Homo sapiens: one gene and its partner. The protein of the gene in region 2 interacts with the protein of the main gene of each other region in a pairwise test. Each region holds a gene or a part of one and is shown on either strand. Other genes may lie near its edges. The genes, in order: APOA4 and NR1D1.

Region 1 (4,609 bases), on a different chromosome or scaffold from region 2:
GGGAGGTTGAGGCGGGCGGATCACGAGGTCAGGAGATCGAGACCATCCTGGCTAACACGGCGAAACCCCATCTCTACTAAAAATACAAAAAAAAAAAAAAAAATTAGCCGGGCGTGGTGGCGGGCGCCTATGGTCCCAGCTACTTGGGAGGCTGAGGCAGGAGAATGGCGTGAACCCGGGAGGCAGAGCTTGCAGTGAGCCGAGATCGTGCCACTGCACTCCAGCCTGGGTGACAGAGCAAGACTCCATCTCAAAAAAAAAAAAAAAAAAAAAAATATATATATATATATATATATATTTTTTTTTTTAAATTGCATCTGTGGGCCGGGTGCAGTGGCTCATGCCTGTAAGCCCAGCATTTTAGGAGGCAGAGATTGGAGGATCACTTAAGGCCAGGAGTTGGAGACCAGCCTGAGCAACATAGCGACACCCCATCTCCATTAAAAACAATGTTTTAAAAAAATTGCATCTGGGCAGGGCGCAGTGGCTCACGCCTATAAGCCCAGCACTTTGGGAGGCCCACATGGGAGGATTGCTTGAGGCCAGGAGTTGGAGACCAGCCTGAGCAACATGGTGAAACCCCGTCTCTGCTGTAAATACACAAATTAGCTGGGCGTGGTGGTGGGTGCCTGTAATCCCAGCTACTCAGGAGGCTGAGGCAGGAGAATCACTTGAACCTGGGGGGCAGAGATTGCAGTGAGCTAAGATCGTGCCACTGCACTCCAGCCTGGGTGACAGAGTAAGACTCCATCTCAAAAAAAAAAAAAATTGCACCTGTACTAAACATATACAGACTTTTTTGGTGATTACCTCCTAAACAATACAGTATAACAACCATTCACACAGCATTTCCGTCGTATTAGGTATTATAAGTAATCTAGAGATTTAAAGTATGTGGGAGGCTGTGCTTAGGTTATATGCAAATACTATGCCATTTTATATCAAGGACTTGAACATCCATGGATTTTGGTATCTGCAGAGGGTCCTGGAATCAATTTCCCATGGAGACTGAGAGATGACCGTACTACCCACTTCGCAAGCAATGTCTTCTTTAATGTACTGAACCATCCCATTGTTCAGAGGAGAAACTGAAGCTCAGGGCTTTGAATAACTAGACCAAGGAGGCACAGCATGGGAGTGGGACATGAAGCACTCTACAATTAACCCTTTCAGGACAAGGCCCTGTCTCCCACACCCATCTGCCCAAAGGCTCTCCAGGGCCCCCTCCTCTTGGGTGTACCTTGACAAGAGACCTAGATTTTAGCTCACTATGCTGTCTGCAGTCCTGGATGGTCCCACTCCAGTGTCTGGTGCTCTGAGATGGAGTCAGCATTAGTGGCGGATGTGGAGACTGGGGGGACCTGTCTTCACTGGGGTAGACAGAGGAGATGTGGACTTTGCCCCCCATGAGCCCGGCACAAACCCAGAGCCGCCAGCAGGGCCTCGAGGCATCAGTCCCGGGCTCATGGGCTCCCTGAGGTGTTTCTCCTACTGTTTTCCGTTCCCCTCCTCCCTTCCATGCTGAGGTTGGTGGGGTGGGGGTGGGGGTGCCCACGCACGGAACAGCCACCACTTCTAACTATCGCCTGAGCCCTGATCTGCTGTCAGCTTCCACGTAGTCTCAGGGTCACAAAAGTCCAAGAGGCCTCTTGGGAATGTGTCACCTTCCAGCGTGGAGTCACACTGAGGAAGGAGGAGGGGAGGGCAGCCAGGGGGGTGGCGATAGGGAGAGAGTTTAAATGTCTGGCTGGCTCTGAGCTTCAGTCAGTTCCCACTGCAGCGCAGGTGAGCTCTCCTGAGGACCTCTCTGTCAGCTCCCCTGATTGTAGGGAGGATCCAGTGTGGCAAGAAACTCCTCCAGCCCAGCAAGCAGCTCAGGATGTTCCTGAAGGCCGTGGTCCTGACCCTGGCCCTGGTGGCTGTCGCCGGTGAGTAGAAGCTGTCTTTGGATGGCACTCCTGGGCTGCTGCTCTGAGTAGTGCAGGATGGAGGCTGAGCCAAAGCAAAAGGACACTTCTGAGTGCCCATCAGCCCCCAGCTGGACATGAGGTCTGCCTGGCTGCCAAGTGGCTCACAGGAGAGCTGGCCCAGTCCCAGTGGTGGGCCCATTGGCATTGGTGCTATACCAGTTTCACATATCCCTGTGGCTTCCAAAAAGCTAAGCTCAGACAGGGAAAATGGCAGGTTGAGGCACCCCCACCATCATCCAGTCTGCAGCTCAGAGCTGGAGCAGAGGGGCCACACAGGAGACGGGGCCTCATGAATTGCTCTCTGTTACCACCCAGGAGCCAGGGCTGAGGTCAGTGCTGACCAGGTGGCCACGGTGATGTGGGACTACTTCAGCCAGCTGAGCAACAATGCCAAGGAGGCCGTGGAACATCTCCAGAAATCTGAACTCACCCAGCAACTCAAGTAAGAGGGACTACAGTGTGCGGTGGTGACGGGGAATTCTTAAAGGCCATGCAATGTACTGGCAAGGGTTGAGCTTAGAGACAGGAGCCCTGAGCTTAGGATACCCACTGCCCTGCCACTAACTGGCCGGGCCTCTGAACCTAGGATCCACATATGTAAACCGGAAGTTTGGACCGAATAATCCCTGCCATGTCCTTTTGCTTTGACGTTCTAGAGTTTGACAAATGGCCACATCCTATCATTCAGGCTCATGGAAGAGAGGGAGGGAGGAAAATGTCACGTGAGCTGATTTCTAATACGTTTCAGAAAGACAGGCCCCAGTGGAATCAAGGGGAGGGAGGTGGGAATATTTGGGAGGCCCCTGGGCACAGGCAAGGAAAGCAGCACCTTGTGCCACTGGAAGACCCCAGCAGAGGTCAAGAAGACAACATTGTGTTACACAATGTGATCCTATGGCCCAGAACACTCCCTCTGGGAAGGACCTCAAAGTCCCACCCTCTGCAGACAAGGAGGGGAAAGCAAACTGCTGGAGGTGACATGGTGGGTAGATTCTGAGACAAACTATGTGGGAGATCCTGAGATAGAAATTCAGCATCGTAACTTAGTCTGTGACACCCATCCTCTCCAATCTGCACCACCATAGGGAGGGTGAACTCGGTACCTCTGAGCACTCACCTGTCCTAGCACGTGTGCATAAGGCGAGTGGTATACAAGCAGACAAAGTCTTGCCGTGTAAATGCCAAATGTAACGTGGCCTCCTTGTGCCCTTCCCCACAGTGCCCTCTTCCAGGACAAACTTGGAGAAGTGAACACTTACGCAGGTGACCTGCAGAAGAAGCTGGTGCCCTTTGCCACCGAGCTGCATGAACGCCTGGCCAAGGACTCGGAGAAACTGAAGGAGGAGATTGGGAAGGAGCTGGAGGAGCTGAGGGCCCGGCTGCTGCCCCATGCCAATGAGGTGAGCCAGAAGATCGGGGACAACCTGCGAGAGCTTCAGCAGCGCCTGGAGCCCTACGCGGACCAGCTGCGCACCCAGGTCAGCACGCAGGCCGAGCAGCTGCGGCGCCAGCTGACCCCCTACGCACAGCGCATGGAGAGAGTGCTGCGGGAGAACGCCGACAGCCTGCAGGCCTCGCTGAGGCCCCACGCCGACGAGCTCAAGGCCAAGATCGACCAGAACGTGGAGGAGCTCAAGGGACGCCTTACGCCCTACGCTGACGAATTCAAAGTCAAGATTGACCAGACCGTGGAGGAGCTGCGCCGCAGCCTGGCTCCCTATGCTCAGGACACGCAGGAGAAGCTCAACCACCAGCTTGAGGGCCTGACCTTCCAGATGAAGAAGAACGCCGAGGAGCTCAAGGCCAGGATCTCGGCCAGTGCCGAGGAGCTGCGGCAGAGGCTGGCGCCCTTGGCCGAGGACGTGCGTGGCAACCTGAGGGGCAACACCGAGGGGCTGCAGAAGTCACTGGCAGAGCTGGGTGGGCACCTGGACCAGCAGGTGGAGGAGTTCCGACGCCGGGTGGAGCCCTACGGGGAAAACTTCAACAAAGCCCTGGTGCAGCAGATGGAACAGCTCAGGCAGAAACTGGGCCCCCATGCGGGGGACGTGGAAGGCCACTTGAGCTTCCTGGAGAAGGACCTGAGGGACAAGGTCAACTCCTTCTTCAGCACCTTCAAGGAGAAAGAGAGCCAGGACAAGACTCTCTCCCTCCCTGAGCTGGAGCAACAGCAGGAACAGCAGCAGGAGCAGCAGCAGGAGCAGGTGCAGATGCTGGCCCCTTTGGAGAGCTGAGCTGCCCCTGGTGCACTGGCCCCACCCTCGTGGACACCTGCCCTGCCCTGCCACCTGTCTGTCTGTCTGTCCCAAAGAAGTTCTGGTATGAACTTGAGGACACATGTCCAGTGGGAGGTGAGACCACCTCTCAATATTCAATAAAGCTGCTGAGAATCTAGCCTCAACTGGTTGCCGGATGAATCCTCCTTGCAGCTGGGGAGGTGGGGAGGTAACCATGACTGGGCAGAGCTTAGCAGCGGCCTGGCAGGAGACACCCAGGATTGGGGAGATGAGACTGCAGGAGAGGTAAGGGCCTGGTGGACTGGAGGCGAGTACATGGGGAGTCCTCTAAGGGGAGGCAGAAAAAGATGTCACACATTATCCCAAGACAAAATATGCAACCTACTTATATTCATTTAGCCA
Region 2 (2,960 bases):
ACCCTCCATTCTCTTTACTGTTGGCTACCTATCTCTCCATGGTCCATGGTCTCATTCCTGGAATGGTCTTAGTGTTAAAATCAGCAGCTGGGTTTTTGTTTTTGGAGGACTGGGCACTTTGAATGGTGCTCAGCTGCCCATCCCATCCCCAGATCTTCAACTGACAACTAAGTCATTAGCTGCAGTCGATATTCCCAAGGAAGGCAACTAAGGAAGGGGGGCACATATGCGAGATGCCACAGGGGTCATGCCTCATACTGAAAGCAGAAGCTGAAGGTGGCCTGCAAAGGGTCGTAGGTGTTGCTTGGCCATGCCATGTCTACTGTGTGTTGGGGAATTGCTTATTAACTCCAAGATTAGGGGCTCCACATGGTGAACTGAGTGGCCAGCAATGTTTTGGGCAGACAGGTGGGGATGAGCACAGTGGCACCCTAGGTCCGGAGACATGGCGGCTGACACCCCCTTTCCTTTTGTTCTCTCTCCAGGTGGCGTCATCACCTACATTGGCTCCAGTGGCTCCTCCCCAAGCCGCACCAGCCCTGAATCCCTCTATAGTGACAACTCCAATGGCAGCTTCCAGTCCCTGACCCAAGGCTGTCCCACCTACTTCCCACCATCCCCCACTGGCTCCCTCACCCAAGACCCGGCTCGCTCCTTTGGGAGCATTCCACCCAGCCTGAGTGATGACGGCTCCCCTTCTTCCTCATCTTCCTCGTCGTCATCCTCCTCCTCCTTCTATAATGGGAGCCCCCCTGGGAGTCTACAAGTGGCCATGGAGGACAGCAGCCGAGTGTCCCCCAGCAAGAGCACCAGCAACATCACCAGTGAGTACCTTTCCAGCTGATTCGGGGGAAGGGAAGCAGGCCAGGGCCAGATTGGGAATGGGTTTTTACGTGACACCAGTCTTGCCAGGACCTATTCTGGCTTCAGGGATTTCTCCTAGAGTGGCACCAGCCCCTCTTCAGCCCAGTTTTGTCACTCCAGTGCCCCTCAACACTGGAGTTCCTCCTTAGCTTTTCCCTCCCTGGATCTCCGGCCCAGAAAGCCTCCACACCTGTGGCCACTCAGCCTGGCCTCTCCTGCTCACCTGCTGCCCGTCTCTTCCACAGAGCTGAATGGCATGGTGTTACTGTGTAAAGTGTGTGGGGACGTTGCCTCGGGCTTCCACTACGGTGTGCACGCCTGCGAGGGCTGCAAGGTGAGGCGGACTGGGGGTAAGGGCAGGGGCAGGTGGCCCCCTCCCCCTGGACACAGAGGCCCAGCCATGATGGAGGTGGTCACTAACCACCCCTGCCCTCCAGGGCTTTTTCCGTCGGAGCATCCAGCAGAACATCCAGTACAAAAGGTGTCTGAAGAATGAGAATTGCTCCATCGTCCGCATCAATCGCAACCGCTGCCAGCAATGTCGCTTCAAGAAGTGTCTCTCTGTGGGCATGTCTCGAGACGGTGAGGCAGCATCCCCACATCCTCCCCCCTTCTTCCGCCCAAAGTTTCTGAATTAATCCTTCCCTTTAAAAAAGTCACAAATGGAGACACATCATACTGTGAATCACATGTGCCAGGGGATGTCCATCCTTCATTTGCTTGGGTCAACATATACTTCTATCCCATTGGTCCCTCGGGTCACCTCCTACCAGCAATCCCTCCTAGGGAAACCCCCTTGATGGGTGGGGACTTGCTGGTTTTAGTTTTGATGTGAAACCCCAAGCCTTCAGGGCCTTGCCCTTTCAGGAGGAAGGAAGGAAGAGAAGCACGTGAGCATGGTTGAGAACTTCCTGATGCTGTTCTCATCCTGTTGCAGCTGTGCGTTTTGGGCGCATCCCCAAACGAGAGAAGCAGCGGATGCTTGCTGAGATGCAGAGTGCCATGAACCTGGCCAACAACCAGTTGAGCAGCCAGTGCCCGCTGGAGACTTCACCCACCCAGCACCCCACCCCAGGCCCCATGGGCCCCTCGCCACCCCCTGCTCCGGTCCCCTCACCCCTGGTGGGCTTCTCCCAGTTTCCACAACAGCTGACGCCTCCCAGATCCCCAAGCCCTGAGCCCACAGTGGAGGATGTGATATCCCAGGTGGCCCGGGCCCATCGAGAGATCTTCACCTACGCCCATGACAAGCTGGGCAGCTCACCTGGCAACTTCAATGCCAACCATGCATCAGGTAGCCCTCCAGCCACCACCCCACATCGCTGGGAAAATCAGGGCTGCCCACCTGCCCCCAATGACAACAACACCTTGGCTGCCCAGCGTCATAACGAGGCCCTAAATGGTCTGCGCCAGGCTCCCTCCTCCTACCCTCCCACCTGGCCTCCTGGCCCTGCACACCACAGCTGCCACCAGTCCAACAGCAACGGGCACCGTCTATGCCCCACCCACGTGTATGCAGCCCCAGAAGGCAAGGCACCTGCCAACAGTCCCCGGCAGGGCAACTCAAAGAATGTTCTGCTGGTAAGGGCATGGGGGCGGGCGAGTGCGTTAAGAAGATTGGGGGGGCCTGGCAGAATGGACTTAGTGTAGGGCAGCTGGGGGTTCCTGGAGGCTGAGTGTGGGGATAGCATCTTCCCAGGAGAAAATGTCTTGCCTTGCAGTCTGGACTCTGCCTGGGAATCCCTAATCTCCACCTGGCACCTAATTGCTACTTTATCTGAAAGACCCATCCTTCAGGGCCACAGCCCCTAGCCCAGGCAGAATCTGGGGTCCAGCTCTGCTCGGGGCGTCCATCTGACCCAGCCTGGCTGACACTCCCCTCCTTCAATCTTTTCCTCCCCCAGGCATGTCCTATGAACATGTACCCGCATGGACGCAGTGGGCGAACGGTGCAGGAGATCTGGGAGGATTTCTCCATGAGCTTCACGCCCGCTGTGCGGGAGGTGGTAGAGTTTGCCAAACACATCCCGGGCTTCCGTGACCTTTCTCAGCATGACCAAGTCACCCTGCTTAAGGCTGGCACCTTTGAGGTGAGT

The links.
Region 1: the proteins of NR1D1 (region 2) and APOA4 interact in binary tests that used the Homo sapiens proteins (3 or more experiments, as listed by UniProt).

The regions. Positions count from the first base shown.
Region 1 is NC_000011.10:116,820,462-116,825,070, reverse strand, and holds APOA4 (apolipoprotein A-IV precursor), read left to right. Parts: upstream 1-1,766; 5' UTR 1,767-1,879; coding exon 1,880-1,928; intron 1,929-2,285; coding exon 2,286-2,412; intron 2,413-3,189; coding exon 3,190-4,204; 3' UTR 4,205-4,371; downstream 4,372-4,609. UniProt on the Homo sapiens protein: May have a role in chylomicrons and VLDL secretion and catabolism. Required for efficient activation of lipoprotein lipase by ApoC-II; potent activator of LCAT. Apoa-IV is a major component of HDL and chylomicrons.
Region 2 is NC_000017.11:40,094,929-40,097,888, reverse strand, and holds part of NR1D1 (nuclear receptor subfamily 1 group D member 1), read left to right. Parts: intron 1-485; coding exon 486-824; intron 825-1,109; coding exon 1,110-1,198; intron 1,199-1,301; coding exon 1,302-1,446; intron 1,447-1,801; coding exon 1,802-2,445; intron 2,446-2,768; coding exon 2,769-2,954; intron 2,955-2,960. UniProt on the Homo sapiens protein: Transcriptional repressor which coordinates circadian rhythm and metabolic pathways in a heme-dependent manner.